Linked DNA regions of Homo sapiens: regions 2 and 3 are each linked to region 1. The links come from fine-mapping of genetic effects on gene expression. A gene starts in region 1. Each other region holds a variant in brackets. All regions are shown on one strand. Distances are between the middles of the regions.

Region 1 (2,715 bases):
GAATGTCAGAGGTGTGACATTACTCCAGAGTTGGAAGGCTTTCTCAATGGCATGGTCCACATCTGCTCTTGGCAAATCTGGCGTGTAATTTTCAATCCTTAGAATGAAACAAAATAGAGACACATTGGACATGACTTCTTACCACTGTCATGGGAAATAGCTCTCTCACTCTGGCCCTCAGTCTGCCTACCTGTAGGTCAGATGTGTTTGCTCCCAGCGAGGGTTCCCCTCAGTGAGGACAAACTGAGCCACATCAGGCACTCCACATCTGGGCTGCTTCATCACCTTCAGGGTTTCAGCATCTGGTTTCCCAGTCACTTTCAGCCCAAAGAATTCCTGCATTTGCTTCAATTTTTCAACCACTGGGCCACTATTTCTCCGCTTTTCAACTTGCCTCCCATCATTCTTCAGGTTGTAGTATTTTTCCAGGTATTTCTGACAAAAGAAAATTATCGAAACACTGCATGGGAAATCTTTCTCATTATTCTAAAAATTGATGGCATTAAGTTTTAGCCAAAACAGAGAACTGCTTTTAAACCTTGTGTTTAGATTTCGCAGTTGCTTTTATCCTTATTTTTGGTGAGAAATGAAATTTCAGAGTAGAAATGTCCCTACTATTAGTTATTGTGAAGTAAGAACTTCATAGTAGAGCAATTTTTGTAGAGCAAGATTTGCATACTGTTACAAGTCTACAATTTGTGGAGACAAGTTTGGATGTTGTTCCTTTAGTTCACTCTCACCTCCAACTGGAAAAAGAGAGCGTATGCATGGCTAGATACATTTTGGGTGGAGGGTGCTGTTTCTAGCAAAAAAAAAAAAAATCTCTTTATAAGAAACCTATCCTTAAAAAACTCTATTACATTACTGCAGAAAAATACAAACTAAAAATTTACATTATTGTCACATGCAATGCAGCATTTACCTGGACTAAGTCCACATCTTGCTCTTGTGTTTCTAGAGTCGCTGGGAAGCTGTGAGACACCACACCCCAGAACAGCAGCAGCAGCAGTGGAGGAAAGCTGTGCATACTGGCCTTTGTCTTCTTTCTCAGTGCAAGGTAAGTGATGGCTTCCCAGCCTCTTGCTGCTCCAATATCCCAGCTAGGAAGCTCCCTCTGTATATATAGAGTCCTTGCCCTTCCAGAAAGCCAGAGGCTGTCTGACTCATGCTTTATAACATCCTCTTGATTAGCTATGAATAGACTAGGCAATCATTAGAAATGGTGACTCCTAGCAGATTATTTGGAATCACTTGGTGTTGCAATGTCATGATTAACTTCAAACAAGATGTGTGCGAAGGAGACACACTCTGCCATGTAAACAGTGGTTTTCTCCAATTCATTTCTTTCCTATTTGAGAAAGGTTCTTGTTATATACACAGGTCAAAGAGTACTCCATGGTCTTTTTGAAAAAGACTGGTTCTGATGGTCATAAAGTGCTACAGGTTTCTCCACACACCTTGCTCCCAGGGCAGAGGGTGGAATTACTAACACTGCGCACCTGATGGCTGTTCGGCACCTGTACTGACTGAAGTTCAGCTCCCCCAGCACTCACTTTACGGTGGCTCTTCGGGGTTCTCTGAGGTTCCCTTCTGCCTTTGTTAAGCTGCCTGGTACCCTATTGCGATAGCACCATGGCTTCCCTTAATCTTTACTCAGAGCCAGGCATGGTGGCTCAAGCCTATAATCCCAGAATTTCAGGAGGCCGAGGCAGGGGAATCACTTGAGCCCAGGAGTTCAAGATCAGCCTGGGCAACATGGTGAGACCCCATCTCTGTAAAAAACAAACAAACAAACAAACATTTTTTAAAGTTAGCCAAGCATGGAGTCATGCACCTGTAGTCCTAGTCACTGAAGAGGCTGAGGTGGGAGGATCACTTGGGCCTGGGAGGTTGAGGCTGCATTGAGCTGTGATTGTGCCGCTGCACTCCAGCCTAGGCAACAGAGAGGGACCCTGTCTAAAATAAAATTTGAAAAAATTTACTCAGGCCTAGGATTTAAGAGCCTTACCTGAGAAGACCCCTCATCCACAGGCGGAGTATGAGATAACTCCCCACCCCTTGCCCATCATTATCATGGGACAAATAGGATCCTTCCCTGAAACTTGTCTGAATGTACCGGATGATGAAAAGGCTGGAAAGAGACTGAGCGTGACTCTGGGGTCTTATTTTTAATCATACTTGTTTCCCTTGATATGAGTCTATCTTCGCTCCTTGGTGCTAGGCAGCATTTATTTATTCTTTCATGTATGCATTCATTCATATATTTATGCATTCCTCCATTCAAAAGATCTTATTTAGCATCTCCTGCCCATTAAAATAAATACATGGCTCTGTAATGAAAGATGTGTATTCCTGTACTTATGTTCCACATTAAATTGTCTTGGGTACTGGTGACCGGTGTCACCAGTGCTATCTGTAGCATTCCTGGTAAGAAAAGTTGGTTTATCTCTGTAGCTCCCCTACTCATGCCCCACTCTCCTTCCTTGGAAGCATTTATTGAAAACATACAGTGGAGAAACACTGGCCTGTTTTATCACTTCAGCACCTTATGGTGTCTCCCACCTTTCCCACTGTATCAGGTTTGCTTTTCAACACTTTCCTCCCCTTATGGATTCCTGTTTTCTTTCTGCGTCAAGACTGATATCTTACTCATAAACAATACTTCAGTATATCTTGGATTGATTTGAGATAAGTCATATCCTTTCTAATTATTTA
Region 2 (2,766 bases), 74 kb after region 1:
AAGACCACATGAAAGTACATGGCTGTATAATCTTGTGTTTCTCTATAGGGATGCTTAGATTCTCTGTAACTTTTTCTTTCTTGCTCACTATGAATCTAAGAAATTGTCAGCATATTATGAATCATACAGATGACCATCTTATCCTCTAATTGTTGGCACACACAGAATTAGTATGTGTTTGCTTTTGAGCTTATGGATTTCACTAGGTCAAAAACTTATCACCTAGGCTGCCTGCAATCTTAACACTTTGGGAGGCTGGGACAGGAGGATCTCGAGGCAACATAGCAAGATCCTGTCCCTATAAAAAATTAAAAAATTAGCCGGGTGGGTAGCGCACACCTGTGGTCCTAGCTACTAGGGAGGTTGAAGTGGGAGGTTTGCTTGAGCACAGGAGTTCCGGGCTGTAGTAAGTTAGCATCATGATACGTGATGCCAGCCTAAGTGACAGAGCAAGACCTTGTCTCAAAAAAAAAAACTTACCACCTAATTAACAGCTTTTACCTTTTCATATTATGCTTCTTAAGGTTCCTCTGAGCTTATGCTAATGAACTAGCTCATAGTTCATAGCATCCTCATAGATTGTTAGAGCTGATCTTCAAGATGATCTAGTTTAATATCCTCAATTTACAGAGAGTAAAATTGAGACCCATACGAAGTGTTAAATTTGATTTAGAGGCAAAATTATAATCAGAACAAGATTTTCCATCATATAATCATTTGTCAGAATGTAGTCTCTCGAAACCAGAATTTTGAATTTGTTAGGGTTTTTGTTGTTTTCCTTTCCTGTTTGCTTAGTTTTTTGTTTGTTTGTTTGTTTGTTTTGCCCACCTCCTGAATGTGTAGTCCAGAATTCGTCCTCATCGAAATGTGCATCCCCTCCAATGCCAGATCCAGGTCCAAAAGCATGGGCTAGGATTCCACCTTTGCCATCAAAAGCATGGAAGTCTCCATGAGCTTTTGGAAAAGGAAAGAAAATTAGTCCTTCTATACATCCTATAGATCATGCCAAATGACAAAGATGAAATACAAGTTCCCTACCTCCACGGGCAAAAACCACCAAAATGTCAGCCATGCCTGTGTTAATCTTGCTGAATTTCAAGGGGGTAACATTACTCCATACTTGGAAAGCTTTCCGGATTGCGTAGTCAACATCCTCACGGTTCATGTCAGGTGTGTAATTATTGATTCTTTATCAGCAAAAAGAGAGAGAAAAATGTATGGAAGGCAGTGTTATTTTGTCTTACCACAATACTTCATTTTTGCTAGCACAATTGGAAAATGGATCATTTCATAAATCAAGAGTCCAGATTTTAAAACTTGCTTCATTAACTACAGAAACATTTTTTCTTGGACAGCCTCCTCCTTAACCAAAATCTAACTTAATTTCTTCCTATTTAAAACTCACAGATCATCACTGTGAAGGATTTGCTTTCATAGAAGGTTATGCTTTTTGCT[C/T]CTGCTCCCAGGTTCTGCATTTATCCATCTTGACTACTCTATAAACTTCCCTGTCTCTTCTTTATAGTAAATTATCTTATTTATAGTAAATTTAGCTTCATTCTCCTTTTATTTGCAGATTTTTTTTTCTTTTTTTTTGAGATGGAGTCTCACTTTGTTACTTAGGCTGGAGTGCAGTGGCACGATCTCGGCTCACTGCAAGCTCCGCCTCCTGGGTTCACGCCATTCTCCTGCCTCAGCCTCCTGAGTAGCTGGGACTACAGGTGCGCGCCACCACGCCCAGCTAATTTTTTTGTGTGTTTAGTAAAGACGAGGTTTCACCATGTTGGCCAGGATGGTCTCCATCTCCTGACCTCGTGATCCACCCACCTTGGCCTCCCAAAGTGCTGGGATTACAGGCGTGAGCCACCGTGCCTGGCCTATTTGCAGCTTTTAAAATCTGCTTTGGACTGGCAAGCCAAACAATTCTCCCCTGAGTGAACAATTCTTCCTTCTAGAGAAAATGAATTTTAGCAGAGATAGCATTAACAATGGAGGGAGGTTACTTTATCTACTTCCAGATTTAGGGCTGTCTAACTGGTTCAGGTTAGAAGTCAGACCTATGGGAAAGTAGAAAAATACAGGGCGACATACACCAACGTTACCTGTAGGTGATATAATGTTTCCTCCATACGGGCCCCCCTGGCATTTCCCTGAAATGATGGACATCGGGGACTCCACATCGAGGTGCGTGCATCATCTCCAGGGTAGATGTGTCCAGTTGCCCGGTCACTTTCAGACCCAAGAAGTGCTGCATTTCTTGGATTTTTTCCTTCATTAAGTTTCCACTATATTTCATTTTTGTCACTGGAAGTTTGTTTATCTCAAGGCCATAAAATTTTTCTAAGTATCTCTGGAAAAAAAAATACATTCAGCAATGTGTAAGTACACACAGAAAATTTCTGTTGGGAGCTCCACATATATGACTCAATTGCACACTGATGCTTTTGGACCAGGAATTTTGCACATCTTACTCACAGGTTAGATTATTGTTTTTTGGACAATTAATTATAATCAGGAAAAAAAACCTTAATTTTTTGTGCTATCAAAGACATGTCAGCCAGGAGCAGTAGCTCAGGCCTGTAATCCCAGCATTTCGGGAGGCTGAGGCAGGAGGATTTCTTGAGCCCAGGAGTTCAAGACTAGCCTGGACAACATGGCGAAACCTCCTCTGTACAAAAAACACAAAAATTATCCCAGAGCGTTGGTGCATGCCTGTAGTCCCAGCTACTCAGGAGGCTGAGGTGAGAGGATCACTTGAGCTTGGGAGGT
Region 3 (2,766 bases), 44 kb after region 1:
TTAATTGTTTTCCTATTTTTTTAGAAGTAGTGTTAATTGTTTTAGCTGATTTTTTTGAAAACTTTGGATGTCATTCCCCAAAACATACAGTTATGAACTGAGAAACATTCTTCTACCTAAACAGTTTGAACGTTGTATTTGGGAGTTAGTCTTTTCCTTCAGAACAAGCCCATAAAAATTCTTTTAACCTAAAAGTACTAAAATAATGCCTCAGCCAGAAAAAAAAAAAAAAGAGAATCTCAGTTTCTGAAATTTAATTCTTATTTCTGGTTTGAAGAGTAAAGAAGTAAATGGAGGAAATTACATAAGTAACATCCAGAGCACATTTTAATGTAGATTCAGTGCAATATACTATCCCTTGAATGTTTGTATTTTGATATGAGAAATTTTTCTTAATAATGGTTACCCCTAGATCACAAAGATCCAGTCATTAAAGAAATACTTAATGATATTTCCTATATTGTGCTTACCAATATAGGAAAACTGTTAAAGCATCTGAAAATATTTTCAATAATAATTAAAACAAAAATATATTCTGCTGATCTCTGATCCACTGGAAAATCCAGAACATCTCATTTCTTGAGCATTCTTGGTTATTAACAGATTTCTACATATAAAAAAATTAATGCCAAAATCATTCTGAGAGATGTGTAACTAACCTGTTGTATCCTTTGTCCATTGTTCATCATCATCAAAGTGGGCATCTCCATTAATCCCTGGCCCAGGGGCATAGGCATGGGCCAAAACATTTCCAGGTCCATCAAAAGGGTAAAAGTCTCCATGTTCTAGTAGGAAAAAAATTTATTGGAAAGATATGTAACAAGGATCCCTTTTGAGCCTTTTCCAGTACAACAACACCAGATAGATGAATGGATACATTTCATGTGTTTTTTGTTTTGTTTTGTTTTGCTTTTTTTTTTTTTTTTTTTTTTTTACCTCTAACTGCAAAAGAGATCATTATATCAGCCTCTCCTTCATACAGCCTGGAGAATGTGAGTGGAGTCACCTCTTCCCAGACTTTCAGAGCTTTCTCAACAGCAGAATCAACAGCATCTTTTGGCAAATCTGGTGTATAATTCACAATCCTGTAGGAGAAAAATTGAAGCAGATGCTATTTTCTCCTATGATATAGTTTATAAAATTCCAATCTTATGTGAAAACCCCTCTGAACCATTACCTGTATGTAAGGTGGGTTTTCCTCCACTTCGGGATGCCAGGAAAGGTTCTGAAGTGACCAACATCAGGAACTCCACACCTGGGCTTGCGCATCACCTCCAGAGTGTCGGAGTCCAGCTTCCCCGTCACCTCCAATCCAAGGAACTTCTGCATTTCTCGGATTTTTTTAACAACAGGACCACTGTCCTTTCTCCTAACAAACTGTTTCACATCTTTTTTGAGGTCGTAGTAGTTTTCTAGATATTTCTAACAGAATAAGTATAGTTTTTAGGTCACTCTTACAATTTTTACTATAGCTATCTATTTATAGTAAGTTTTTGCAGTTGCTCACTTCTTAATCTATTTGGAGTATTTCTCTAGCTTGCTGAAATAATGGCAAATTTTATAATATGATACTAGCAACACAAATATTTAGCTAAAATTACGTTGCAT[T/TA]AAAAAAAAAACTGAAGCTGTTCCAAAGCAAGATATGGTTCATCCACTCTCCACTTGTTACTCATGTGCCTTAAGCCCCAGTGCTGCTACTGCTATGGTGTTGTGTGATCTTAAGAAAACACCTAATATTTCTGGCCTTTGTTTCTTCCTACATAAGAGGAGAAGCCCAAATGGTGTGATAATGAGACCTTTTCCACTTCCAACACTCTATAACTCTCTATTCTTGAACTGTTCCTACACAGTAAGCTCAAGCATTCTATGTGGGTTTTAAGACACACAGAATGGTTTCAGCTTACTCTGGAAGCTCCCCACCTGGCCAGGTCAGTTAGTGTTAATTACCTGAACAAGGTTCATGCTGGTGTCCTCACCCCTTGCAGCTCCATCCAATGGATAGGCTGAGCAAACTGCCACGCACAGCAACAGTAGGATTGGAAGACTCTTCATTTCCACTGGCTTTACTTAGCTCTATGTTGTCTCTATGCCTTGCTGTCTTGCCTGCCTCCTTGTAGGTCCAACCTCGGGAGCGCAGCTTTTAAAGAGTGACAGTGTTTGTTTGGATCACCCGCAGCTTGACTCATCCTTGCTTTCATCCAAATGGCAGCAGGACCATTTCCAAACATTCCAAATTCAAAGTAGGATGATACAACCTACTTTACTAATTTCTCTCAACCTTCCCAATTTTGCAAGGCAACACAGTGATTAATCTCCAGGAAGTGCTTCCTGTCTTGGTAGAGGAGAAAACTGGAGCATTTTTTTTCTTCTGGAAAAATTGACTGGAATTCACTAGACAATTTATGTTTGTCCTTTTGAGAGAAGAAGTAGGTTGACTTGGTAAAAATCAGAATTGTGCAGAACTTCTAAAAGCAGTTTTATTTTAAGAAACACATTATAAAAGCAAATAAAAGATGTAAGTGGAAAGTGTACATACATAGCTATAGTCTATACTATATACAATTATACTCAAAACATAAAAGATAATATCTAGAAGAAATTTAGAAGGGGTGATTTATTTTTCTGAATCTGATTTGTAATGCCTGCTATTGACTGTCGTTGGATTTGCTGGTTCTTGAGGAGGAAAACCTCATGGGCAGAATAGAACAAAGAGGGTCTGTGAAAAAGAAGGAAGTATATTCCCTTTGGGTTGGTTTTAATTCTGTA

The links. PIP is the estimated chance that this variant, and not a neighbour inherited with it, causes the effect.
Region 2: its variant is the best candidate, but not a certain one, in a credible set for the expression of MMP1 in gastroesophageal junction (GTEx, PIP 0.80).
Region 3: its variant is the best candidate, but not a certain one, in a credible set for the expression of MMP1 in whole blood (INTERVAL, PIP 0.68).

What each region holds. Positions count from the first base shown.
Region 1 is chr11:102,797,066-102,799,780 of GRCh38, forward strand. It overlaps MMP1 (matrix metallopeptidase 1), which reads right to left and starts at 1,095. Exons shown (of 10, transcript NM_002421.4): 1 at 923-1,095; 2 at 191-435; 3 at 1-97. The coding sequence starts at 1,027. It also overlaps the pseudogene WTAPP1.
Region 2 is chr11:102,870,766-102,873,531 of GRCh38, forward strand. MMP12 (matrix metallopeptidase 12) reads right to left here. Exons shown (of 10, transcript NM_002426.6): 2 at 2,100-2,347; 3 at 1,039-1,187; 4 at 829-954. Among named protein-coding and RNA genes, the nearest start is that of MMP12, 2.8 kb to the right of the region's middle. The variant C/T (reference allele first, on the strand shown) is at 1,456.
Region 3 is chr11:102,841,495-102,844,260 of GRCh38, forward strand. MMP3 (matrix metallopeptidase 3) reads right to left here and starts at 2,115. Exons shown (of 10, transcript NM_002422.5): 1 at 1,948-2,115; 2 at 1,178-1,422; 3 at 937-1,085; 4 at 660-785. The coding sequence starts at 2,052. The variant T/TA (reference allele first, on the strand shown) is at 1,609.